7 linked regions of the Homo sapiens genome follow. The protein of the gene in region 1 interacts with the protein of each later gene in a pairwise test. Each region holds a gene or a part of one and is shown in the gene's direction. Other genes may lie near its edges. The genes, in order: STOM, HMOX2, CYB5B, LNPEP, TMPO, DAGLA and SFT2D1.

Region 1 (3,500 bases):
CCTTGACTCTCTAGTGCCTCTCTCTTGAATATTCTTCCACTCCACCCAACACCCTCAGAAAAATTGTATTCCTTTCTTCAAGATTCAATTCAGGTATCACCCCTGCCACCCACAGCTGCCCCTAAGAGTTTCCTTTGATTCCCTAACCTCCTTCAAAGGAGGAACCAAGTTTTTTTCCTACCTTAATCCCTGGTACCTAGTACAGTGCCTGCTGTTGAGTGATATCTCAATATTATTTGTATGATTGAATGAATTAATGGACTTGAATAATTTATTTTATTAAATTTTAAAAGATATAATTAACTTTCTGATGCCTTACTAAAGAAAATCAGCTAGTGTTATAAGATATTCTGTAGAATAACATTCCTTACAGTTATGTTAAAAAAAAGTCGTTGACAGATGTAAAATTGCTTCCTTCATCTTGTAGATCCTCACAAAGGATTCAGTGACAATTAGCGTGGATGGTGTGGTCTATTACCGCGTTCAGAATGCAACCCTGGCTGTGGCAAATATCACCAACGCTGACTCAGCAACCCGTCTTTTGGCACAAACTACTCTGAGGAATGTTCTGGGCACCAAGAATCTTTCTCAGATCCTCTCTGACAGAGAAGAAATTGCACACAACATGCAGGTGGGGAGTACGTCAATGCTGTTACCCCCCAGAAGCTGAAAAATGAAGCAAAGAGTCAATGGTTGTTTGAGAACCTTTTATTAATTCAAGTTGTGGGGGTCTGTGACCGTTTTTTTTTCTTCATAGTAAAATTTTTCAAATTTGGCAGGAGGGGACATTTTTCACATTAGCAGTTCATGAGTTCATAACACTCATGCGTACATTTTTTTAAAATTTTCTTCAGTGTGTATTTTTTTCCAGAATCAGTAATAACCTTTTTGTTTAGAACAGAGGCTATTCTGCAAGATAGTGTAGGTATTCCTAAAGCTTTATTCTGTGTGTGAGTCCCATGAATTATAACTGTTGTGCTTTCCAGTCTTTCTTGAGTAACAGATATTCAGTTAAGCATAGCTTATTCAAAAAAGATAAAGTGCTATAACTCTGGATTCTTATTATTTGTATAGACTTCATCGTGGGTAAAATCTATGATTGTATTTGATATGCACAACAACCTATGAAATAGATGTGTGGTTTCATTCCTGACATTCTAAAGGGAGGAAGTTGAAGCACAAAGGAGTAATATGACTTACACAGAGTCACATTAGCTCAGGAGTTGGCAAACTGTAGCCTACAGGCTGTAGTTTTTGTAAGTAAAGTTTGACTGGAGTATAGCCACAGCCATTTATTTATATATTATCCATGGCTGCTTTTGACTACAACAGCTGGGTTAAATAGTTGAGACAGAGACTACAAATAAACAATCACTATATGGCCCTTTTAGAAGAAGCTGCTAACCCCTGCATTAGCTTGTTAGCAACAGAATCAGGATCAGTGAGCCAGCCCCTGCGTCACCATTCGTTCCACCGTGGGGTAACTGTCTCTCCACAACTCTCCCCAGCACCTTATCTCCTCCAAATCCCAATGAATACAGCCTCTGTCAGCATCTGGGCTGGGCTGAGGAGATTTAGCTTGCCTTCTCTCTTCCTAACAGTCTACTCTGGATGATGCCACTGATGCCTGGGGAATAAAGGTGGAGCGTGTGGAAATTAAGGATGTGAAACTACCTGTGCAGCTCCAGAGAGCTATGGCTGCAGAAGCAGAAGCGTCCCGCGAGGCCCGCGCCAAGGTAACTTTTTTTTTAAACTTGTTTTTCTTACTGAGTTTTCTCTTTTATTAATAATTATAAAAAAACGTAAAACATGCTTGCTGTAAAAACTTGAAATAATCTTGAAGTGGTAAAGTTAGAAGTGAAAACCCTCCCCGTAACTTCAAATCATATTCCCCCAGAGGTCACCACTCCTAACAGTTGAGTGTATTTGGATTTTATTTGACCAGGTTTTTGGATTACTGGCTTGTTTGTTTTACAAAAGTAGGGTTATACTGCACATGTTGTTCTGCGCTCTGCTTTTTTCATTTAATATTAATATCTATGGACGTATCAGTACATGTAGAGTTACCTCATTCTTTTATGACTGTGTGTACCATACTTATTCTCCCGATTCCATATTAAGGTCAAATTAACAGTTCCAACTTCGGAGCAAGTGGGTCATCATTCCATCCATACCACCCATCTCTTACTTATTTTTGGCTTCTTTTTTGTTCTGTTTCTTTTCTCAGGCTCTTTTTCCCTTTTACTGTTTCCTATTCCTCATTCTCTCTTTTCCTCTTGTTTATATTCTCTTACTTTGACATCTGCCTTTTTTCTTCCTTCTTTTCATCATCATCTGCCTATGTCTTAACCCTGCATGGGTGGCATGGCCCCTCTGGGAGGCACTGAGGAAATATTTGTTAACCTAACCTAGAAAAGAGTATCTTTAAAGATGATAATGTGTAAAATTTCAGGGATATCTCACCAAACCCAAAGGTAGGAAGTAGGGGCAAGTCTCACCAAAATTGGAACCAGAAGGCAGTTCAGGGAACTAGTCATTCCCTTTCCTGTGCCACATCTCACTGTAGATAGCTTGTGGTGGAGAATGTCTAGCTCCCAGGTTTAGATGTCTGCCAGGTGAACACTAAAGAACACAGACCAGCCCTAATTCCACATTCACAGAAGAGACAGTCTTTTTGGTCCAACTTTGGTCAAAGTGCAAAGATAGCATAATAATATGGTTCCACAGCCCTATGCCTGTGAATGGGCTGAAGAAGAAGAGCAGTTTTCATAGGAGGAGTTGCTGTGGACTTGACAAATCTCCCAAGACACAAGGAGCAAACCAATTTGTTGTTAGAAAATAGTAGTAGCTGGTCATCACTGGCTGACCACAGAACGCTGTTCTTTTCTTAGGATGCCCTTTAAGCCACAAACTGGTCACTATAATTTCTTAGCCAGCATCAAATAGGATAGTAGCTCATTTGACATGCGACTTCAGAATTTTGCATTAACCAAAATGTTTAGGTTTTCCTGGTATGATGATTGTTGCTTTGTGATGATAACCTGGTAGTACTACAGAACCCTCTAGTGCTTTCTTTCAAAACTGTTACGTTTAGAAGATTAAATTATGTTTACGATGTTATTAAATGTGCCCTATCATCTCCTTATTTTGAAAATTAGGAATTGCTTTTAACTAGAATATGTTATTAGGCAAAAGCCTCATTTCCAAACCAGATTGAATAGTAGAATGTACCATACATATACTACGTAGAATGTCAGAGCCCAAAGGATCCTCAGAGATTATCTTCCATAGGTGGCAAACACTTAGCCCAGATGCTAGCACTCCATCCTGCTATTCCCATGCTAGTAATTAACCACAGCACTGTTTTCCTCTGAGCTTAGACTTGGCCTCAGAACCCTTCTATAGCACTCTGGGTAACAACCCTCAACTGCTTAGAGTTAGCTCTAAAAAACAAAACTTGAGGCCAAGCACAGTGGCTCACGTCTGTAATCCCAGCACTT
Region 2 (3,500 bases), on another chromosome or scaffold:
CCTTGGCCCAGTTTGGCCTGATTTGGCCCCAGTTCTGTCTTTGTGAGTTACTTTATTAGTTGTCGGTGCTACTGTGCTGCTATTCATGTGGAAGATTCCCCAAATGGGCTGCGCCTTACATTGCCTGAGCAGAAGCCCCGAGGGATGGAGGATGAGCTTGCCTTGTTATGGGACTGTGTTTCCCTGGCTGACAAAGGCTCAGCATTTGCAGCAGGCAATGGGAATTGATTGGCCAACTTAATATTTCCTTCAGCCTAGCAAAGTCCTGAGTAGGCTAGGGACAGTCTGCTTTTTTGGTAACTCCTGTAGGCTGCCTTCTGCACAAGGCACCCAGCCTCTCACAGGTAGGATGAACTGGCCTCAGCACGCTTGCAGAGGGGTGGAACTGTGCGTTGCTTGCCAAGCTTTTTGTTTCCCTAAGGTTTTTGAGGTTTTCTTTGTTTTTGGTAACTTTCAATTTTTTTTTTTTTTTTTTTTTTTTGGACAGAGTTTCACTCTTATTGCCCAGGCTGGAGTGCAGTGGCGCGATCTTGGCTCACTGCAACTTCTGCTTCGTAGGTTCAAGTGATTCTCCTGCCTCAGCCTCCTGAGTAGCTGGGATTACAGGCACGCGCCACCACATCCGGCTAATTTTGCATTTTTAGTAGAAACAGGGTTTCTCCATGTTGGTCAGGCTGGTCTTAAACTCCTAACCTCAGGTGATCCACCCACCTTGGCCTCCCAAAGTGGTGGGATTACAGGCATGAGCCACCGTGTCTGGCCTAACTTTTAATTTTGATACGGTCTTTTTTTTTTTTTTTTTTTTTTTTTTAAGACAGTTTCGCTCTTGTTGCCCAGGCTGGAGTGCAACGGCGTGATCTCGGCTCACTGCAACCTCTGCCTCCTGGGCTCAAGAGATTCTCCTGCCTGAGCCTCCCGAGTAGCTGGGATTACAAGTGTGCACCACCATGCCCGGCTATTTTTTGTATTTTTAGTAGAGACAGGGTTTCACCATGTTAACCAGGCTAGTCTCAAACTCCAGTCTGCCTCGGCCTCCCAAAGTGCTGGGATTACAGGCATGAGCCACTGTGCCCTGCCTTGATACAGTTTTAAGCATACAGAAAAATGGTAAGAATAGTACAAAGAACTCTCATACCTCTTCCCCAGATTCACTGCTAGGATTTTGCCTTGTTTGCTTTTCTGACTTGCCAGTGTCCCCCACCCTGCAGCATATGCACATGCACACACACTGTCTTCTGAACCATCTGACAGGGAGTTGCAGGCAGTGTACCTTTACTTCTGAATACCCCAGTGTGTATTTCTTAGGAACAAAGACATTCTCTTATATAATCGCAGTACAATTATTTTTAAAAACCAGCAAGCTTAATGTCAATACAATGCTATTACCTAATACATTGTTCATATTCAGATTTTTTCCATATTCCACTATGGTCCCAGTAATGGCAGAGCTTTATTTTAAAGAAAACAATCCTGGGGTGTGTGGGTGTCACCTTGGTTACATTCGCTCTGAGGAAAGCAGAACCGACAGGTATTTGGGGAAGTGACTGCCGTGGGTGCCACATCACCAGCTCCTTGTGTCTCTGCAGGACCAGAGGAGCGAGAGCAGCAAGAACCACACCCAGCAGCAATGTCAGCGGAAGTGGAAACCTCAGAGGGGGTAGACGAGTCAGAAAAAAAGAACTCTGGGGCCCTAGAAAAGGAGAACCAAATGAGGTGAGCGATGGGGGCTGGCTGCACTGAATCAGGTGGGCCCAGCACCTGTCGTGCTCAGCACACCTGGTTTTGTCTGTTGGCAGCACTGGGGAGTGGCCATGGGCCATGAGCTCTGGACCCCTGGGTGCCTGCTTGGCCCTGCAGGGACCGCATACAGCTTCGGCTGCTTAGAACTCTCCCCACTGGTCCATTGTCTCATCCAAGGAGGCAGGGCAGGTGCTCCTGGGAGTGCTGATAGGATTTGATGGTAGTTATCCTTTTTTCTTTTTAAAAACTTGTGCGTTTCCTCATCTGGGCTGAGAAAGGGTAAACGCAGGCAAAGCTGGCTCTGTTCAGTCTTTTACCACATAAAAGACTGCAGGGCAGCCTTTCCTTACTCTGTATAGGGACAGCTCATGCTAAACCTGAGCTTCCAGGCCCTGTTCTGCATCATTAGCCTCTCATAGCCCTGTCATTGGCCAAGTTTTTTTTTTATCCCTTGAAATAATTGCTAATAATAAATTGATTCTCAGCACATGGATGATAACGAGCTAATCTCCTAAAGAAGACAGCAGAAGCCAGACCATGATAAGGCCAAATTTTTCTCACTCTTGTAGATGGATTGTGTGGACACATGTAAGCCCCTGCCCAAGTACCACCATCTTTAGGATCACATGTTTTCTACCTTGTCCATCCATCCACACACCTTTACAACTGTGTAATTTCGTTAAGCAGCACAAACCCAGCGTCCTGGCCCTAGCCTCTCGGTTGTCTCCTTTGCATCCTTCCGTGCTTGGTCCTAGTCACATATAGTCTCAAAGAAGCTGTGGGTCCAAGGTGGGAGGAAGGCAGTAGGGCCATCTGAGGAGACCCATGGTCACAGCCTTACTGAGGTGTGTGAATTCCAGAAGACACGTTCCAAGGCAGGCTGTTCTTAGAGAAGCCAGCAAATACTGAAGGGAATACAGATGTGTGTCTCTTCGACCACTAGGTGGCCACAGAAGCAAAGCATTGCTCATTTGGGTGGTTCCCAACACAGACACATGGACGTGGGTACTACTCTCAAGGAGCAGGCCACAGTTATCCCTTGTGTCCTGAGTCCTTGGAGCAGAATGTCATGTCTGCTTGTCCTGTGTTCCCTGACAAGTTGCTGCTATTTGTGTTGGAGTGAAGTGTCTGAGAAGCCCCAGCCTCCAGTACAACAGGTGGTCACCTTGGGGTGTGGACTCAATCTTCTCTCTATGGTCCTTTCTGGAAAGCTGGGAAGGGCTAATTGACACACAAACACCTCCCATCTCTCCACAGAATGGCTGACCTCTCGGAGCTCCTGAAGGAAGGGACCAAGGAAGCACACGACCGGGCAGAAAACACCCAGTTTGTCAAGGACTTCTTGAAAGGCAACATTAAGAAGGAGCTGTTTAAGGTTTGTGCCCCGCATTGGGTTCCAGACTGTCATATGGGGTTGGGGTGGGGGCCTTGGTCCCATGAGAAAAGTGCCCCTGGAGCCACTCTGAGGGAAAAGCTGGGCTTTTCTCCACACTCCATTCCTTCTTGACGTTAAGCTCTGGCTCTCGGCTGGGTACAGTGGCTCATGTCTGTAATCCCAGCACTTTGGGAGGCCGAGGCAGGTGGATCACTTGAGGCCAGGAGTTTGAGACCAGCCTGGCCAACATGGTGAAACCCTGTCTCTACTAAGAATACAAAAATTAGCCGGGTGTGGTGGCGCGTGCCTGTACTCCCAGCTACTTGGGAGGCTGAGGTGGGAGAGTCACTTGAACCTGGGAGGCGGAGGTTACAGTGAGCCGAGA
Region 3 (3,500 bases), on another chromosome or scaffold:
AAGGTTAGTATCTCCTTAACAGCTTTCCATACGTTCAAGGTAATGTCTGGCAAGAGACTCTTCCATAAGTATATGTATGTAACATAACTTATGAGTGCAGTTTGACAACTAATTCTTTTTTGGCCCAAATCATTGCAAATTCAGTTGTTCCTTGACATTAGAAAAATTAACTTTTACAGTTTCAGCCATTTTGAATAATCTAAAAGTTTCATGCCTTGAGTCATTTTTTAATCTTATTGTGACATAAATTGGAATCACACTCAGTAAGAGGCCAGGATGCATGGACAGGTAGCTACTATTGGGTCAGCCTTTAGTCCCGAAGTTCAACCCAGCTACATGATTCTACTTAAAACTTAATCGCATTTACTTCTCACAACCACTCTGTAAGGTAAGTGCTATTATTACATATTGCAGGAGAAAAAAATACTACGGTCATATTTAGGAATTTGGGTTTTCTCAGGTTTATTTACAATATATTCCTTGGCATTAATATTAGTAATTCATTAGTATTAGCTCTGAAAGTTATAAATTGCCTTACCTTAAGTGCCTCTATCTAAAATGACTGTGGAATCCTTGGCTTGTACAGTATCTTTGTGGAGATTATATAGAGCTAGCCATTCTATTTTTTGGACATCTCGAAGTATTTCAGAGAAAGAAAATATGTCTTTTTTTCCCATAAAGTATCAGATCTATTACTTGAGGTAACGGACACAGTATAAAAAATTACAAACTATTAGTAAATTTAGTTTCCTTAATATTAAGGGCTTAGGATCAGCGAAATGCTGCATAAAAATTTTGAAAATACAAGCCACAAAATTGCAGATTTTAAACAAAACTTATGCTTATGCAGGGCCGGGCGCGGTGGCTCACGCTTGTAATCCCAGCACTTTGGGAGGCTGAGGCGGGTGGATCATGAGGTCAGGAGTTCGAGACCAGCCTGGACAACATGGCGAAACCCCATCTCTGCTAAAAATACAAAATTAGCTGGGCATGGTGGTGCGAGCTTTGGGAGGCCAAGGCAGGAGAATCGCTTGAACCTTGGGAGGTGGAGGTTGCAGTGAGCCAAGATCGCTCCATTGCACTCCAGCCTGGGCAACGAGAACGAAACTCCATCTCAAAAAAAAAAACCAAACCTTATGCTTATGCTATAAAACTTAGACTTAAGCAAAGCATAAAACTGATAAAGAATTATTAGGTAGAAGATATAAAGAATTCCTACAAATCAGTTTTTTAAAACCTCAGTAGAATATGAGAAAAAGATTTAAGCACTTTACAGAAAAGGAAACACAAATGTAAACATATGGAAATGAGGTTTAATCTCATTCATCATTAGTGATATGTGAATTAAAATCATAGGTATATTTCATACCTAACCAGATTGGTAAAAATTAAAAATTTTGCAAATAAGAGTTGGTTGGAAAGTTTATCACCGACTCTTAAGCACTCCTAGGGTAATGTAAATGAGTATAATCACTTTGGAAAACAGTTTGGCATTATCTAGTAAATTTGATAGGATGACTTAACTTTTGACCCAGCAATTCCATTTCTAATGATATACTTGATAGAAATGTGTGCCCAGGTACACCCAGAAATATATGCAAGAATGTTCATAGCAGTGTTATTCGAGATATTCAAACATCAGAGACAACCCTAATAAATTGTGGTATATTCATACAATGGAATACTACAAAACAATAAAAATAAAGGAATCACAAACATGTAGTAGTCTAGATGGATCTCCAAGAAGAAAAATCTGTCTTATGGTAGGAAGTTATTGTTGAACCTGAATCTCCTGTGATGCAGTATAAATGTATTTCCTCTGGTTCTCTCCTCAGTGGCAGTTAAGTATTAGGAAAGATTATGTGAGGATTGGTGTCAACCATTCTCAGTCTTTTGTACTAAAGAAATTTTCTGGCCGGCGTGGTGGCTCATGCCTGTAGTCTCAGCAAACTGGGAGGCCGAGGTGGGTGGATCACGAGGACGGGCTGAGACAGAAGAATGGCGTGAACCCCAGAGGTGGAGCTTGCAGTGAGCCAAGATCGCGCCACCGCACTCCGGCCTGGGTGACAATGAGACTCCGTCTCAAAAAAAAAAAAAAGAAAGAAAGAAAGAAATTTTCTCCTTCAATGTTTTCTCAAGGATCCTACTTTTGGATTCTTCAGTCTCTTGCGGTTACTCTTCAAGGAGTCTGAATTCATTACTCTTATCAGGAGATTACTTCAGAGTTCCCATGTGCATATTGCTGTTATACGTGCCATATTGCTTGGTTTTGTAAACAAAGCTACCTGGCTGATATTCTAAACTAGTCCAGAGTAGCTTTCTGCTGTACGTAAGCATACAGAGTGCTAGGCATGTTTAGGCAAAGAGAATCATTTTTCTTATGAACTTCAGCTCGTTTTATTGACTTCAAAACCTTTTAATACCAAGACTCATATGTCTTAAGTAGAGGGGCAGCCGGGTCATTTGGATCATGGAAGAATTATACCTTAAAACTAGTGTGCTAATAAGTTCTATTAAAGAATTATTATGTTAAGGAGAATGATGACTGTTCTGAAGCTCCTAAGGAAGGTCTCTTGCAGTACTTTTGAAGCTGCCATTTGCTTCACCCTGTTAGAACTGTATATGCTTTGTGTGTATGTGTATCCTTATTAGTGTCCAAACTTAACTAGGGATTAAGAGGATGGGTTTGGAATCAGACTGTCCAGCTGCCTTTCTAGCTTTGGGATTTGGGGTGCAAAGCTTATATTTCCCTTGTATGAGATGAGAATAATAACCCTATTTCGTAGGTTATCCTATTTCATAAGGATTAAATCTTTAAAATACATATGAAGCAGATAGGATATTTCTGGTAGTTATATTAGATATGATTACTTCCAAATTTATATTGGGATGGATATGTTTTTATACATATATGAAATGTCACATACATAATGGTGTTTTTTCCTGTTTAAAAATGTTTAATTGTAGAATACGTGAAAAGCAAAAGCACAATGAAGAAAATGTGAGAGTATCCATAATCCCTAACTCAGAAATAACCACTATATGACTTTGTAGAAACACATATAGAGGCATTTAAAGACATCTTATTTGATATCATACTATTGGTTGTTTTTAACCTTTTAAAAAATTACTTTGTAATATTGTCACTCCAATTCAAATATTTTTCCCCAACTACTTTGTGATAAAAGCAGTTAAATTTCCCAAAGTAAATAAAAACTCCTTGCCTATATAAAAACATGTGAAAGCTGAAAGATAGTGAACATTTGGCTTAAAATATTAACAACTTTATTGCTTTCTCCCCCTATTCCTAGTTGCTGGGCATATTGGATTTTACCCATCATAGGCGCTGTTCTCTTAGGTTTCCTGTACCGCTACTACACATCGGAAAGCAAATCCTCCTGAGGAGGCCTTGCTGAAGTTAGAAAGTGCATCCACTTTGGGGCGAAAACTAGAGACTTGCTTGGGGGCTGCAGAAGTGCCCTCTCCTCGAATCCTGCCAG
Region 4 (3,500 bases), on another chromosome or scaffold:
GTTTCTAACAAGCTGCAATGTGATGCAAATGCTGCAGGGTCACAGGCCACACTGAACAGCAAAACTGCAAATTTTATCCTAATATTTATCAATAATATGTTTTATGGATGAAGAGTTTCCACCATTACAGTGTTTGTTGAATAGCACAAAATACATAGCATTTATCTTAAGCTAGATATTCAGTAGTTTTTTGTAAGCTTTGCTCTCCTGATGGTGAAATAATACTCTTAGCAACTTCATTGCCAGGTATGAAATAAATAATTCAGGGCTCTCATCTTTTATTGAATTAGTTTGAGTAGAGGGATGCAATATAATGAAAAGAGCATAAACTTTTGAATCAAATTTTTAGACCTGTGCTTTAATATCAGTTTTATGACTAAATAGCTGTGTGACTTTATGAAGACGAATTAATCTATTTCTCTTTTTCTATTTTCTCATGTCTAAAATAGAATACTTGCCATTTTATAGGATTGTTGTAAGGGTTAGAAATGATAGGTATAAAGTATCTTCCCTTGTAGGGAAGATTAGTGGAGGTTTCAATTTGATAACTTTTGAGATCCCTTAAAAACTAAAATTGTATGAATTTTAAATAAAAAACATTGAACGATCTAATCCTAGGAAGTACTGATATATGGGGGATTATCGACCCTTCTACTTCTAGAGTCTTTTTTCTCAGTGATTTTGGCAAATCGGAAGGTGTGGTTTGTTGTAGTTTGTAAAAGCTCCCACTGAGATCCACTAACACTCATGGTGTGCAGTATGGTTGTTTCCCATGGAAATATGTTGTACTTCTGAAAGCCATGGAAGCATGAAAAACAGATTGAATTATAATTTTATCTGACTTTTATTGTCTTTTGATCTTTTTAAAAATCATTTCTTGCTTATGGAAATTTCCCATATAATTTGCTGCTTCCCATTTGCTGTGGGACAGAAACATTCCTCTTTCAGGGGAAAACAATAACCCATCCTGTTGCTTAGCCATACTCAATCTTAGAAATGGGCATACCAGCTTGTGGTGCTCCCTAGAGAGAATGAGACTCAGGGATGAGACCCACAAATACCTTGGAAGCAGATTTGAGGCCTGTTGGACAGAAATTCTGGGATTGCAGTGCCCAAACCCTAGAAGGGGAACCGTGGACTGTAGGTGGGCACATCCCTTTGATCCTACTGACTCCTCGCCTGGTGGGGACAGACATAGTCAGAGGAATGCCAAAACAGTGCCCTCTCAAGCCCAGGGCAGGGTCCCAGGTTGTGGGGCAGGAGTATATTAAGGAAATTAGTATATTATCTCAGCTAACTTTTTAAAAATATAATAGCCTGTTTATTTAGCTTTCTTGTTTCATAACTGTGGTATACTTTTATTTATGTTTTAGTTTTTAATGGATGACTCAATGGTATAAACATCTTATTTAATTCAGTAGCTCTGAGATGGAAATAAGTCTTAGTGACTTAAAAAAATTCTTAGTTTAAATGTGGTCTAGGTAGAAGACATGTTATTAATATTATGAGCTTTTTTTTTTCTAACTCTGTGCCTTGTTCTTATGTTTTGGTTTTTTAGATCGGCTTCAGCTCCCCAGGAATATGATTGAAAACAGCATGTTTGAGGAAGAACCAGATGTGGTGGATTTAGCCAAAGAGCCTTGTTTACATCCTCTAGAGCCTGATGAGGTGGAATATGAGCCCCGGGGTTCCCGACTGCTGGTGCGGGGTCTTGGTGAGCATGAGATGGAGGAGGATGAAGAGGATTATGAGTCATCAGCAAAGCTGCTGGGCATGTCCTTCATGAATAGAAGCTCAGGCCTTCGGAACAGTGCAACTGGTTACAGGCAGAGCCCAGATGGGGCTTGTTCAGTACCCTCTGCAAGGACCATGGTGGTCTGTGCTTTTGTCATCGTGGTTGCTGTTTCTGTAATCATGGTGATTTACTTACTGCCCAGATGTACCTTTACCAAAGAAGGCTGCCATAAAAAAAACCAGTCAATTGGACTAATTCAGCCATTTGCAACAAATGGGAAATTGTTTCCATGGGCACAGATCAGGCTTCCCACTGCCGTTGTGCCACTACGCTATGAACTCAGCCTACACCCGAACCTAACCTCGATGACATTCAGGGGTTCTGTGACAATTTCAGTTCAGGCTCTTCAGGTCACATGGAATATCATTCTTCATAGCACAGGTCATAATATTTCAAGAGTGACCTTTATGTCAGCAGTTTCAAGCCAAGAAAAACAAGCTGAGATCCTGGAATATGCATATCATGGACAGATCGCCATTGTTGCCCCCGAAGCCCTTCTAGCAGGGCACAATTATACGTTGAAGATAGAGTACTCGGCAAATATATCTAGTTCTTATTATGGGTTTTATGGCTTCTCCTACACAGATGAAAGTAATGAGAAAAAGTAGGTAGCCCTCTTAAATGATTCTGGTTTTACGCTCTGATAACTTCTGCAATATAGATCCCTTTGTCCACACCAGAGACACGAATTGTGATTTTTTTTTTTAATTTAGGAAGTTATATACAAAATAGTAGAATGGTGATTTAGAACAATATATTATCTCTCTTAGTCAACGCCTTGAGCATATATCATGGTGGGGTGGAGATAGGGGTGTGCTGGTGGAAAAGGATGGATAAAGATTATATCCAAAACTTGTTATCTTGAGTTTTTCACATTTTTAAGGTGAATCTAGTTTTCTGTCACCTCATGAAGTCTGTTGGGAAGCAGAGTAAAGAGGAGTTATTCTTTAAGACCTATTTTCCTAATGTGCAGAACTTTTAGGAGGTACTTAGTGAAATACAGAAAGAGGGCATGAAGAAGTGTGAAGTGTGGTGTGCTTACATATATCATTTTTAATATCCTTAATCTTTACTGGTTTATTATTTTTTAAAATGCCAGTCTATTTTGGATTTCTGGTGTAAATTTTTTTTAAGGTCTAGGAGAGACTTAATTTGGTTCAGAAAAAAAGGTGAGACAAAATATAAAATTATTCAGCTCCCTATTTGGACTATATATTTAGTACTTTAATCTTAGCATTCATAGCATGTAGTTTGAAATTCTGGGAAGATGGAGTTCACACAGTATGGAGGTTATTCTTAAGTAGCAGTGATATCAGTTGTCTTGTGCACAAAATCCTCACGACATCTGCTTTATGCAATTGGAACATTCTCTCATATTACTCTGTAAAACAATATGTGAATTACTGATGCTGACCATTTGGCTAATGTATGTTGACATATTAAGAGAAATAGTTAGAAATGAGTATTCTACATCTAAAGGAAACTTTTTGATCCTTCTTAAATGGAGAAAGAGACCAAGCAAGATCCATAATTCTATTCAGATAAATAATTTTTATTTTATTTTCCCTCTATGTAATACTTTTAAAATAAATGGCATACTGGCCCTGCATTTCAATTCTTGCGTGAGATCTGGGATTGAACACAAATGTATAATTGCAATGGGAACTTGAAAGTTCTTGCCTTTAGTTCTCCTTCTATAATGCCT
Region 5 (3,500 bases), on another chromosome or scaffold:
GGTAGTATTACATCCAGCCATTTAGGCATATTTATTGGATGACCACTCCTGTCACAGGATTAAAGTTTAAAAAAAAAATCTGTCTTTAATAGACATTGACTTGGACCTAAAACCATCAGTAATCTAGGTTAAATATTGGCGTGAAAGCAAAAGTGACAACAGAAGGACACTCTACTATAATACTGATCATTGATGGATGTTCTGTAGTTAAAAGAATTTAAAAGAATCATCTGGTAATAGCGACTTCAAAACTGAAAACCTTAAACTACTTGGAATGCGGAATTTCGGGCCCTACAGCTACAGAATCAGAATCTGCATTTAACAGAAGCTTCAAGTGATTGATAGGCACATTACAATTTAAGAAGAACTGATCTAATGGGTTTTAAACCAGTATGTAAGAAATGCTGGATTCTTTAAAAATGATCAGTGGAACATAGAAATTAATCTGAGACTGAGAATTAATCTGAGGCAGCTGTTTTCTGTCTTTCTGTAGTGACATGGATAGCATTGAGATTTGAAAGTGACGTTAGGCTTGCATATTCATTAAAGAGTGACCACAGGGTTTTTGTGGCTACCTAATTTTGTATCTGTTTCCAAGAAAAATTTGACACCTGAGAATTTTTTAGTTCAAATAAGCTATATGTGGGATTATAATTTAAACTGATTCTACTAAAATGATTATAACCATATGAAAATAATAATGTTTATGCTAACAATTACAAAAGTTTGTATTTTTGTTTTAAAAGGAAACTGACTTATAATAGATGACTTTTTTCTAAGTCATGATCAGTCTGCTTTTTGTTTAGACAGAGATGTAGCTCCAATACTAGAGCCAAATAGCACACAGTGAGTCAAAAAGGGAACTGGTGATAGTTGATGTGCTTTTTTTCCCATAATGTTTATAATTTGTGAGCTACTATAGGTGGATTCTTTAGTGTATTTTAGCACTTTTTAAGTGTTTCCTGATGCCTAAATATCAGTTCAATTAATACATTTAGGAATATTTTGAGGACATAGCCTTGTTTGTAAATGCTGGCATTTGGAGACTTCTATTTCATGGCTTCTCAGTGTGCCAGTATGGCCGTTATTAAAGTATTTGATGTTAGAATATGACTTTTTAATGTGTTGATGCTTGAATAGAGCTATTCTCAAGCTGGAATAACTGAGACTGAATGGACAAGTGGATCTTCAAAAGGCGGACCTCTGCAGGCATTAACTAGGGAATCTACAAGAGGGTCAAGAAGAACTCCAAGGAAAAGGGTGATGCAAGGCTTATTCCTTGGGTTTTCAGATTTGTAGGGTTTTAGTATTATTTTATATTTATTGTTTTTGTTTTGTTTTCAAACTAACAGGTGGAAACTTCAGAACATTTTCGTATAGATGGTCCAGTAATTTCAGAGAGTACTCCCATAGCTGAAACTATAATGGCTTCAAGCAACGAATCCTTAGTAAATATGTTTCATAAACTATACAAGTGGTATTCTTTGTAAATTACCCTTTAATTGGAAATGGGGAGGTGGTGAATTTTGGCAAATCTCAAATTTACATGTTTTTTTTTTTTAACAATTTTAAACTGATTTTCCCCATATAGTTCTGAATTTTAGAATTTTCCTATAATATCCAATTTATGTAAAGAAATCTAATTCATTGTACAAGAAAGTATAAGGATATTTTTTGTTAAAATATTTGAAGAATGAGGCTTCATATGTGAGGCACTAAGTTGTGTTTGTAGGCTGTGTTGCTTAAATCTTTACTAAGGGAAAATTTCTAATATTACAGAGATAAAATATCTTTCTTTTCTTTTTAAGTGTCTGTGTTATGTTTGGATAATTCTGAGTCTGAATAATTTGAATCTTGGCAGGTTGTCAATAGGGTGACTGGAAATTTCAAGCATGCATCTCCTATTCTGCCAATCACTGAATTCTCAGACATACCCAGAAGAGCACCAAAGAAACCATTGACAAGAGCTGAAGTAAATGAATACAATTTAGATCGATGCTATCATTGATCTTTCAAAGAGGAAATATAAATATTTGTTTGTTTTTTTTTTTTTTTTTTGGAGTGGGAGGGAGCAGAGCTTTCTTTATTGGGTGGTGTGTGTAAATATGCATAAATTATTTTAAGGACACTTTTATTAGTGAAAACAGAAATTAACTAATATAGTTTGACATGCTAATACTATCCTCTTGCCACTGTATCCCTCTTAAGTTCCAGTTTTCAAGGGAGTGGTCATTTCTGTTCTGCTTATAATATGTTCTGTTTGTCATGGATGCAAGTTTGAAAGTGCTGCTGGGCTATGAGGGAGGCTACACTTTCTTTTGTTGACGGGTCAAATAAGAGACTTTAACATAACTTCATGTGGTGCTGGAATGGGTTAACTCCTGTGTAATTAAGCTTGAAAGTACTAACTGCATGGTGCATTTTAATTTGAATGAATCTTTACAAAAGGAGCCGAAACATTTATTATTTTGTTCTGGACATAAAGGTAAACAGTAAAACAAGCTAAACATTATATTTTTTTTAATTTGGGCATATTGCATTGACTATAATTTTAAAACATATAGTAAAGTTTGCTAAAGGTTCATGTTAAGTATCTTCTGTATTTTATCTTTTACTACAGAATTCTTAATAAATGAAGAAACAGTATACTTTTTTTTTTTTGAAACGGAGTCTTGCTCTGTTGCCCAGGCTGGAGTGCAGTGGCACGGTCTCAGCTCACTGCAACCTCCGCCTCCTGGGTTCAAGCGATTCTCCTGCCTCAGCCTCCTGAGTAGCTGGGATTACGGGTGCCCGCCACCACGCCCAGCTAATTTTTGTATTTTTAGTAGAGATGGGATTTCACTATGTTGGTCAGGCTGGTCTCGAACTCCTGACCTCAGGTGATCCACCCGCCTCAGCCTCCCAAAGTGCTGGGATTACAGGCGTGAGCCACCGTACCCGGCCCAACAATATACTCTTAATAGTAAAAAACAAAATCAATGAGGGAATTAGCATTGCCATGTTAGATTACTGAATTTTTTCCCCCCAGTTATTTAAATGTGTGGCAGTTTTTCACTCCAATAACCACATATATAAGGTATCTTCAAGAAATTTGAAGAGAGCCTTGGAAGCATGTGGATACCTAAATAATAATTTAGAAATGGCAGCTGTAAAATCTATGATAGATTTAAAGGCATTTTGTTCTCTAAAACTTACTATTTATGTTTTAATTATTGCATGTTTACACTAAATTTTAACTTGTGGTTGTTTGTTTGTCTGTTTCTTATTAGGTGGGAGAAAAAACAGAGGAAAGAAGAGTAGAAAGGGATATTCTTAAGGAAATGTTCCCCTATGAAGCATCTACACCAACAGGAATTAGGTATTCAGATACATTTAAACAAGTACTAGTGTATTCTAGTAGGGAATCTTTATTTTTAATTCTTCATCACAAAGTTACTGTACTTCTGCTCAGAATTAAGCTGTTTTTTTGGAGCCAGGTACAATGGTACATGCCTGTAGTC
Region 6 (4,133 bases), on another chromosome or scaffold:
TTTTCCTTGTTACCTACGTGAGTTTGCTTTCTAAATAATCACAGGTAACACAGAACTCCTTCCAGAAGTGGCTCCATCTGCTTCAATAAAAGGCAGTCCTGGCCTCACAGTCTCATTTCCAACCCAAATGTCCACGTAATTTTCAGACCGAGGCTTCTGCTCAAGCCGGGCACCCCACTACCCACACCTCCTTGTTCACCTATGGCTCCCACTTCTACTGAACTGCGCGATCACTGTGATTTTGGGGGTGGCAACAGGGCCTAGGAAACATTTTAGAGGCACTTCTCTTGCCTGAAAGAAAACGTTCTTCCCCTTTTTGTCTCTGATGAATCTTTACTGGATCTTTGGGACCCAGCTGAGTCATCCCGACCTGCAGACTGGACTCCCATCCCCAGGCTTAAATTCCTTTCCAAGGGCTCTGTCTGTCCTCTCGGCTTAGCTTCTGTGTTAAAACCCCCTCCATCTGCGTCTCCTCCCCAGCAGAATGAGCTCCTTGAAGTCAGGGCCCGCCTTCTGCTCCTCTCTGTGCTCCACTCCCCCAGTTCAGCACAGTGCTCCCAGGGAGGTGTAAGCGACTTACGGTGAATGAAAGGGCGTGAAGGGGAACAGGAGGGGCGGTTTTCTTCATTTACCAGAAATTCAAAATTGACCAAGTAAACCCCTTTGGAGACCAGGCACGATGCTGGGCACTGGGAACGGGGGTAGGGGTGGGGGGTGGGGGGGTGGTAGGGAGGAGGGGGTACCCAGGGTACCCACGGGCTCTGTCGCCCGTGGGGAAGGATGGGCATTTACCCTTCCCATTCATCAGGATGGGAGGGCCACGGACTCCCCCCACGGCAGTGCCGGGTAGACCCCTGCACCACACCGTGCCAAGGCCCTTTCTCACAGTCACGCCAGGAACTCTAGCCATGCTCTGACTTCTCAAGCAGAGTTCAGTCACCCCGAGGAGGTGGGACCCGTCTCTCTCCTCCCCACAAATGAACCAGTTCTCCAGTGATCCTACTTCCTTTTTTCCCTCTCCCACGCTAAAACTGGTCACGAGGGACCTAAAGGAGGGGCAGGCACCCAGGCGGCTCCCTTCCCCGCACGCATCGCGGCCAGTCCAGCCCCTCCCGGCCGCCCACGGGACCCCAGCCGAGCCTGAGCCAGGCGCCCACCGCCCCCACGCGCAGGGCCGGCGCCCGCGGAAGACTCGGCTCTCCCTGGCCTCGACGCCGCTCCCCTCCCTGGCGCCAGGGGGCGCTGCCTCCCCACGACCGTCGCCATGGTCACCGCTGGCGGCGGAGAGGGGTTTACGTAAAGGACGCAGCGTCCCCCGGGGGGCGGAGGCGGCCTTCGCGCCGGCGCCGGCGCCCTGCGGAAGCGGCGTTAGTGAATCGGGGCCTTGGGGAGCCCAGGATGGAGGTGGCGGTCGCGGCGGCGGGCCGAGCCCTGCGGCGGGCGGGAGGTAAGGGGGGCCTCCGGCGCGGCGGGCCGGTCCTGGGCGCGGGCGCGGTGCGAGCGGCGCGGCGGGCTGGGCAGTGTCCAGGGCGCGCGGTGGCCGGCCCGACGGGTCGGCGGGCGGAGTTGCAGCTGCCACGCGCGCCCGTGGCAGGTGTGAGGTCTGTGGAGCCCCTGGCACCAGCGTGGGGATGGTGACACGCGTGGCACGGGCGTGGGCAACGTGGGTCCGGCACAGGCGGCGTGGTTTTCCTGGAACGGGTCTCAGAAGACTCGCCTCCACCTTGGTGCGGTGGTGGCCACGCAGGTGTGAGGTGGTGCAGCTGTCTGCACAGGTAGGTGATGGGCACGGCCTTCGGACTGGTTATGGGATAGGTGGCCAGCTCGTGCCGGCATGGTGGTGCCGCTAGCATGGGTGTGAGGAAGTGCTGCCATTGCTTGGGTGTTGGGATGGTTCTGGCCTTGGGCTTGACATGATCTGGGGTGATAGCACTGGGGGCTTGAAGAATTGGTGTTCTCAGCATGGCTAGAGTTCCTGGCATGACTGTGAGAAAGGGCCTTGGCACGGTGTGGTGCGGGGGGCTACCCGGCACTGCCGCGGGGGGAGTCCGTGGCCCTCCCATCCTGATGAATGGGAAGGGTAAATGCCCATCCTTCCTCACGGGCGATGAAGGGGACACTGCCTCTGTCATGGGGGTCCAGTTTTAATGCCTGTTGGGTACACTGGACTGAGGAGGGCAGAAGGCTGGGAGAAGGTTGGTGTCCTTTATAATGGGCATAAACAAGAGATGCCAGGAGAAGCTTCTACCACAAGGGCCCTGATGGTAACCCAGATAGAGACCTTCCAGGCACTACCGTTGTCCTGGGCTAAGGTAGAGAGAACCATTCATCTAGCTTTTCATCTAGCTTTGGGAATGAAGGGAGGGGTGGATGATTTTCAGTGGTGATCGGTGTCCCAGAATATGTCCTGAGAAGCAAGCAGGACCAAGAGGTAACCCGGGTCAGCGAGTGAGGGAGTGGTATGGCGCACCATCTATCTGTAGTCACGGGGTCCTGCCTTCTCCCTGGGTTGATGGGTTCACTCCAGGGTATCTGGGAGTTGCCTCTCTTCTTTGATGCTGGGGAGCCTTTGGGTCCAGAGGATTGGATCGATTGGGGTATGCTTGAAAGATGATTCTGCAGCCACTGGGAATCTGCTGGGGCCACCGGGACTCCCACCCCCAGGCTTAAATTCCTTTCCAAGGGCTCTGTCTGTCCTCTCTGCTTAGCTCCTATGTTAAAACCCCTCCATCTGCGCTGAGATTGTGTTTGCTCTCACCAGTCCTTTGGGAAGCTTTGGGTGAAGGTCTCACTCAGCATCACCTAGTGCCTTACTTTACAGAGAAGCAATTTGCAGCTCCTCCTAGAGAAGTCTTACAGTGTAGGGGAAATCTTCAGTTCTTTGTGGATCTCTTGGGGGAGTGGGATCAGTGGTAGAAGAATCACAGGGTTGAGCTTGTGCTGGGGAAGGCACTTATGAGTCCAAAAAGATGATGTTGAGGGTAGGGTGGCAGGTGGTCGCCAAATTGCCAAGGTGGGTGCTTGGAGATGCTGATGAGTTCCCTATAACCGGAGCACTGTCCGATGCCTTTGGAGCCATATCACTTTAATTCCAGTGTTGGCTGTGTGACCTTCAGCAGGTGACTTCACCAATCAAGGCATGTCACATGGTGGTCTGGTAGTAAAGAATGAAAGGAAATGGTGCACGTGGAAACACTTTGCAAACAGCGAAAGACTGTACAAAGGTCAGAGAGTCTCATCAAGTAAAGAGACCAGGGCTGGAGGCAGGAGCCATAGGAAATGGTGGCACGGGATGTGATTGGGAGGAAGGGAGCCGGAAGGTTGAGGGCCTGTCATAGGGAATTAGAGGCCCTGAGCGCACATGCTCCCGGTGGGGGCAAGTGGGATCTGTTGACACTGTGAGTCAGCTGCTGAGCTGGAACCAGGCCCCCGGTCTCCAGAGGACAGTCCTGAGCATGGCCCCGGCAGCTGTGAAGTCCTGCAGGAGTGGCCCAAGCAGGAGGAAGCACTTTGCTTGGGCAGCAGACGTGCCTCATTGCCAGGGTAGGTCTGGGAGGTGTCTGTGGCTGACAGATCTAGGGTACCTGTGTGGGAGGAAGACTTGGGAAGTGTGTGTGTTTTCTCTGGAGAATTTCCTTTGGCTCTGGGTTCTGAGAACGGGGGTGGGGAGCAGTCACATCAGCGTCTTTTGGGCTGTGGCCTGAAGGAAATGAAGTGGGTCAGAGCATCCACAGATCGATGTGGCTCAGGTCTGGATGGTTCTGCGGGAGGTTGAGGCTGGATGGCAGGGGGACGGGGGGGGGAGGTGTGGAGGATGCCCTCAGACACATAGGGGAAAGGAAAGGGGGCTACAGGCACCTCTGAGGGCAGACAGGTGTGGCACCTCTCCCAATGTGGCCCCACTTCTGGCTGAAGTGCCTTCCCAGGTGGGGAGGATGAGGGTGGCTGCACAGTGCTTTGCTCTCTGCCACCAGGAGCCTAATTCCCGACAACAAGCTGCAGAGCCTGAGTTGCAGACCCTGCCCCATGGCGCTGGAAGTCCTGTTTTTCTCTCACCCAGGCCGTTTCTTCAGCATTCCATGCGGGTGTCTGCCTTAGCCAGCAACCTGTTTCACATCCTTGCTCCCCGAGGA
Region 7 (3,500 bases), on another chromosome or scaffold:
ACTCTAGGCTTTGTTCTTGTGGAGCTTACATTTTAATGAAGAAGATGTTCACATGATAAGCCAGAAAAAGATGGGATGGCATTGGTGCTGTGCAGAGAATTAAAACAGGGTGTGGCAGTAGTGACAGAGGGCTACTTTATATTGGGAGTATGAGAATCCCTCTTTGAGAATCTTTGTCGCATCTTTGGGTTGTTGTTTGTCTTAGCCCTTTTTATGCTGCAGTAACAGAATACTGTAGACTGGGCGACTTAGGAAGAATAGAAATTTTTCTCACAGTTGGAGGCCTGAAGTCCAAGGTTAAGGCACATCCATCCTGCTGATAGATGCATCCCCCAAGGGGAAGATCCCTGTGTCCTCCCAGGGCAGAAGAGGAAAGAGCAACCCCCAGGCAGCCTCTCCTCCAAGGGCCTTTGATCCCTTTCAAAGGGAGGAGTTCTCACAGCCTAGTCCGGTCTTCATACTAACACACTGAAGACACTTACATTTTGGAGAAGACACCTTCACACCATAGCATGTCTATTGGTATAGTTGTAAAGTTTCTTTATAAAGTTAAGGAAAAAAAAAATTTTAGTGAGAGATTTTAATTAAATAAAGCAACAGGGCTTCTTTTTTAAAAAAGTAGTTTATTTTTGCATAACCAGATAAATTAGTAGACCTGTACCTCAGTCACTTTATTTGTTTCAAATAGTACATGCTTTTTAATGGGACCTGTGAAGCAACTGAAGAAAATGTTTGAAGCAACAAGATTGCTTGCAACAATTGTTATGCTTGTAAGTAAATAATACATTTTTAAAACTTTTATTGAAGTATTCTTTGCACTGTTATTTTACGAATAATTGCCTGTTATGTATGTATACTTCTTTTTTTATTTTTATTTTTTTTTATTATTATACTTTAAGTTTCAGGGTTGTATGTATACTTCTTGTGTTGAATATAATAATTATATCCGGCCGGGCACGGTGGCTCACGTCTGTAATCCCAGCACTTTGGGGGGCCAAGGTGGGCGGATCACCTGATGGCAGGAGTTCAAGACCAGCCTGACCAATATAATGAAACCCCGTCTCTACTAAAAATACAAAAATTAGCCCGGTGAGGTGGCATGCACCTGTAATCCCAGCTACTTGGGAGGCTGAGACAGAATCACTTGAACCTGGGAGGTGGAGGTTGCAGTGAGCCAAGATCACACCATTGCACTCCAGACTGGCCAACAAGAGTGAAGCTCCATCTAAAAACCAAAAAAAAAATATATCCTATGTGGTTATAGAGTTCAGATGGTACAGTATTGTCTAAGACTACTGGCTGGGTAAAGCCTGCTTCTGCTGCGTATATGGCATGGTGTAGCTGCGTATTTAAATGGAGCCTAGAGCTGAGTGTGCTTTCATTTTTAAGCCCTGCTGATGGTTTCATGAGGGATTGTTAGTTTGTACCCTTTAGAGGGTGGGCATAGACACCCTCTATGCTGAGGGTGAGATTTAGCATCATTTGTCATCTGACTTTTGTCCCTTCTCTGTGTGCCAACTTGACAAATTCTAACAATATGGCTCCCGTAACAGTATCTTTAAAGGTGCCTTCCATTACATTGTGGGTTCTGTCCACAACTCTCAGGTCATCACTCTTATTATCTTGAGCCTGGGTGGCGGGTAGATGAGAGCTTACACTTTGGCTAGTAAGGTTGTTTCCATTCTCATACGTGCTGGGTGTTCAGCTGATCATCGTTTTGTGTATTGTGGGCAGGAGGGGGACCCAAATCTCTTCTGCATCCTGCCTCTGCCTCCTAACTCACCTGGTCTGTGTCTCTTGTGGATTTCTTTTGCCTTCAAGCATTTATGATATTTAAAGAATTTAAATGTTACCATTATAACTATTAACATTAGCTTTCCAAACACAGCTAACCTATGTTAATTTATAAGGAAATGTTTGTTAACTCTAATCTGCCTGGCAGTCTTCTCCCATCTCCTCACTAGAGTAAAAACTCATTTTTAGCTTTATTTATTATGTCTTTATTCAACTTCATAGTTTCTTACCACTTTTATAATCTCCAATTATTTTGAATTTCCTATAATAGCATATGTATCAACATATATATAAACATTTAACTTCAGATTACTAACAAAGTATATTTCACTGTTAGAATATAAGTAGTTTATATTCCACTAAGATTTTAGTTAGTTTTATTTAAGAAATCCTGGCACTTACCCCTCAAACTTTTTAGTAACATACTGTACCTTACAAAAACACACATGTTGAGAGAACGTGGGAACGTTTGAACATATAAGACGTCTCCCAAGGTGGAGCACTTTGCGTGGTTTGATTTGCTGCCCACGTAAGATCACGCCTAGTAATGGTGGTGAAGAGGCTGTGCCACATAGAGCCTTCCACATGCCAGCTTCTAGCTCAAGCCCATCACGGATGCACTCTACCTTATTCATTACAACAGCCCTTTAAAGCAGGTAGGTAGGAACTCTCCTCATTTTAAAGAGAAGACAACAGGTTTAGACGAGTCCACTGACTTCACCAAGGACCCTCAGATAGCAGGCGTCAGAGCTGGGATCTCTTTAGGTCTTTCCAACACCACACTGCCCACCTCTTGCATTCACTCCTGTGCCTGCTTGCTTTCATGGGGATGTGGAATGATCATCTTTCAGTTTACTTAACAGATTAAATTATTAGATGCTTCCAATTTGCCAAGGAATATTGCAGTCATAGACTTTAAAGTAAAATAATACTTACAGAAAATACAAGTAAAACTATTCAGCTGTATTCTTATTTTTGTTCTATAGTATATTCCCTATGTAAATGAATGCAGAATAGTTTATGCATTTTTATTAGGCTTTTGAAAGGATCTCAAACTTATAATCTACTCTTTCTTCCCCTGTAGTTGTGTTTCATATTTACCCTGTGTGCTGCTCTTTGGGTAAGTTATGTCAGCCCTACTGGCTTTCAGTTAACTGTGTGCCCCCCACCCCAGCTGACGTGTCATCACACCATTATCTTAAAATAGCTCATCTGTTTTTTTAAAACTCTCTAAAGATTAGGTGTTCCTAAAATTTGACATGTTACCATCCAGCTAGTTGCTAAAAATGCCATAGATTCTACTGTCTACAGCATAGAGGTAGTCAGTGAACACACATGTGCACACATGCTCACCCACCCAGCTGGTGGCTAAATGTGCCATAGATTCTACTGTCTGCAGCATAGAGGTAGTCAGTAAACACACATGTGCACACATGCTCACCTACCCAGCTGGTGGCTAAATGTGCCATAGATTCTGCTGTCTACAGCGTAGAGGTCATTAATAAACACACATGTGTGCCCGAGCTCACCTGCTTGTGGGCCTGGTTGGCAAATCTGACAGTGCCCGGTGTGGTGAAGGGCCCTGGCTCAGGGGCTGTGCTCTCCACCATGCTGCTGCAGGGGTGCGCTGTGAGTCTGCAGTGGTGAGGCAAGTGTGCTGCCGAGTAGCAAGGTGTAAAACCAATAGAGAGGGCCAGAAAACACAG

What was found.
Region 2: the proteins of STOM (region 1) and HMOX2 interact in binary tests that used the Homo sapiens proteins (3 or more experiments, as listed by UniProt).
Region 3: the proteins of STOM (region 1) and CYB5B interact in binary tests that used the Homo sapiens proteins (3 or more experiments, as listed by UniProt).
Region 4: the proteins of STOM (region 1) and LNPEP interact in binary tests that used the Homo sapiens proteins (3 or more experiments, as listed by UniProt).
Region 5: the proteins of STOM (region 1) and TMPO interact in binary tests that used the Homo sapiens proteins (3 or more experiments, as listed by UniProt).
Region 6: the proteins of STOM (region 1) and DAGLA interact in binary tests that used the Homo sapiens proteins (3 or more experiments, as listed by UniProt).
Region 7: the proteins of STOM (region 1) and SFT2D1 interact in binary tests that used the Homo sapiens proteins (3 or more experiments, as listed by UniProt).

What each region holds. Positions count from the first base shown.
Region 1 is NC_000009.12:121,346,251-121,349,750, reverse strand, and holds part of STOM (stomatin), read left to right. Parts: intron 1-427; coding exon 428-631; intron 632-1,601; coding exon 1,602-1,736; intron 1,737-3,500. UniProt on the Homo sapiens protein: Regulates ion channel activity and transmembrane ion transport. Regulates ASIC2 and ASIC3 channel activity.
Region 2 is NC_000016.10:4,503,898-4,507,397, forward strand, and holds part of HMOX2 (heme oxygenase 2), read left to right. Parts: intron 1-1,586; coding exon of another isoform or gene 1,587-1,627; coding exon 1,628-1,713; intron 1,714-2,997; coding exon 2,998-3,115; intron 3,116-3,500.
Region 3 is NC_000016.10:69,459,119-69,462,618, forward strand, and holds part of CYB5B (cytochrome b5 type B), read left to right. Parts: coding exon 1-3; intron 4-3,311; coding exon 3,312-3,402; 3' UTR 3,403-3,500. UniProt on the Homo sapiens protein: Cytochrome b5 is a membrane-bound hemoprotein functioning as an electron carrier for several membrane-bound oxygenases.
Region 4 is NC_000005.10:96,977,580-96,981,079, forward strand, and holds part of LNPEP (leucyl-cystinyl aminopeptidase), read left to right. Parts: intron 1-1,558; coding exon 1,559-2,399; intron 2,400-3,500. UniProt on the Homo sapiens protein: Release of an N-terminal amino acid, cleaves before cysteine, leucine as well as other amino acids. Degrades peptide hormones such as oxytocin, vasopressin and angiotensin III, and plays a role in maintaining homeostasis during pregnancy.
Region 5 is NC_000012.12:98,543,090-98,546,589, forward strand, and holds part of TMPO (thymopoietin), read left to right. Parts: intron 1-1,140; coding exon 1,141-1,260; intron 1,261-1,352; coding exon 1,353-1,448; intron 1,449-1,861; coding exon 1,862-1,972; intron 1,973-3,269; coding exon 3,270-3,358; intron 3,359-3,500. UniProt on the Homo sapiens protein: May help direct the assembly of the nuclear lamina and thereby help maintain the structural organization of the nuclear envelope. Possible receptor for attachment of lamin filaments to the inner nuclear membrane.
Region 6 is NC_000011.10:61,679,058-61,683,190, forward strand, and holds the start of DAGLA (diacylglycerol lipase-alpha), read left to right. Parts: upstream 1-1,333; 5' UTR 1,334-1,447; intron 1,448-1,754; exon of another isoform or gene 1,755-1,775; intron 1,776-3,445; exon of another isoform or gene 3,446-3,543; intron 3,544-4,133. UniProt on the Homo sapiens protein: Serine hydrolase that hydrolyzes arachidonic acid-esterified diacylglycerols (DAGs) to produce the principal endocannabinoid, 2-arachidonoylglycerol (2-AG).
Region 7 is NC_000006.12:166,325,546-166,329,045, reverse strand, and holds part of SFT2D1 (vesicle transport protein SFT2A), read left to right. Parts: intron 1-688; coding exon 689-770; intron 771-2,878; coding exon 2,879-2,914; intron 2,915-3,500. UniProt on the Homo sapiens protein: May be involved in fusion of retrograde transport vesicles derived from an endocytic compartment with the Golgi complex.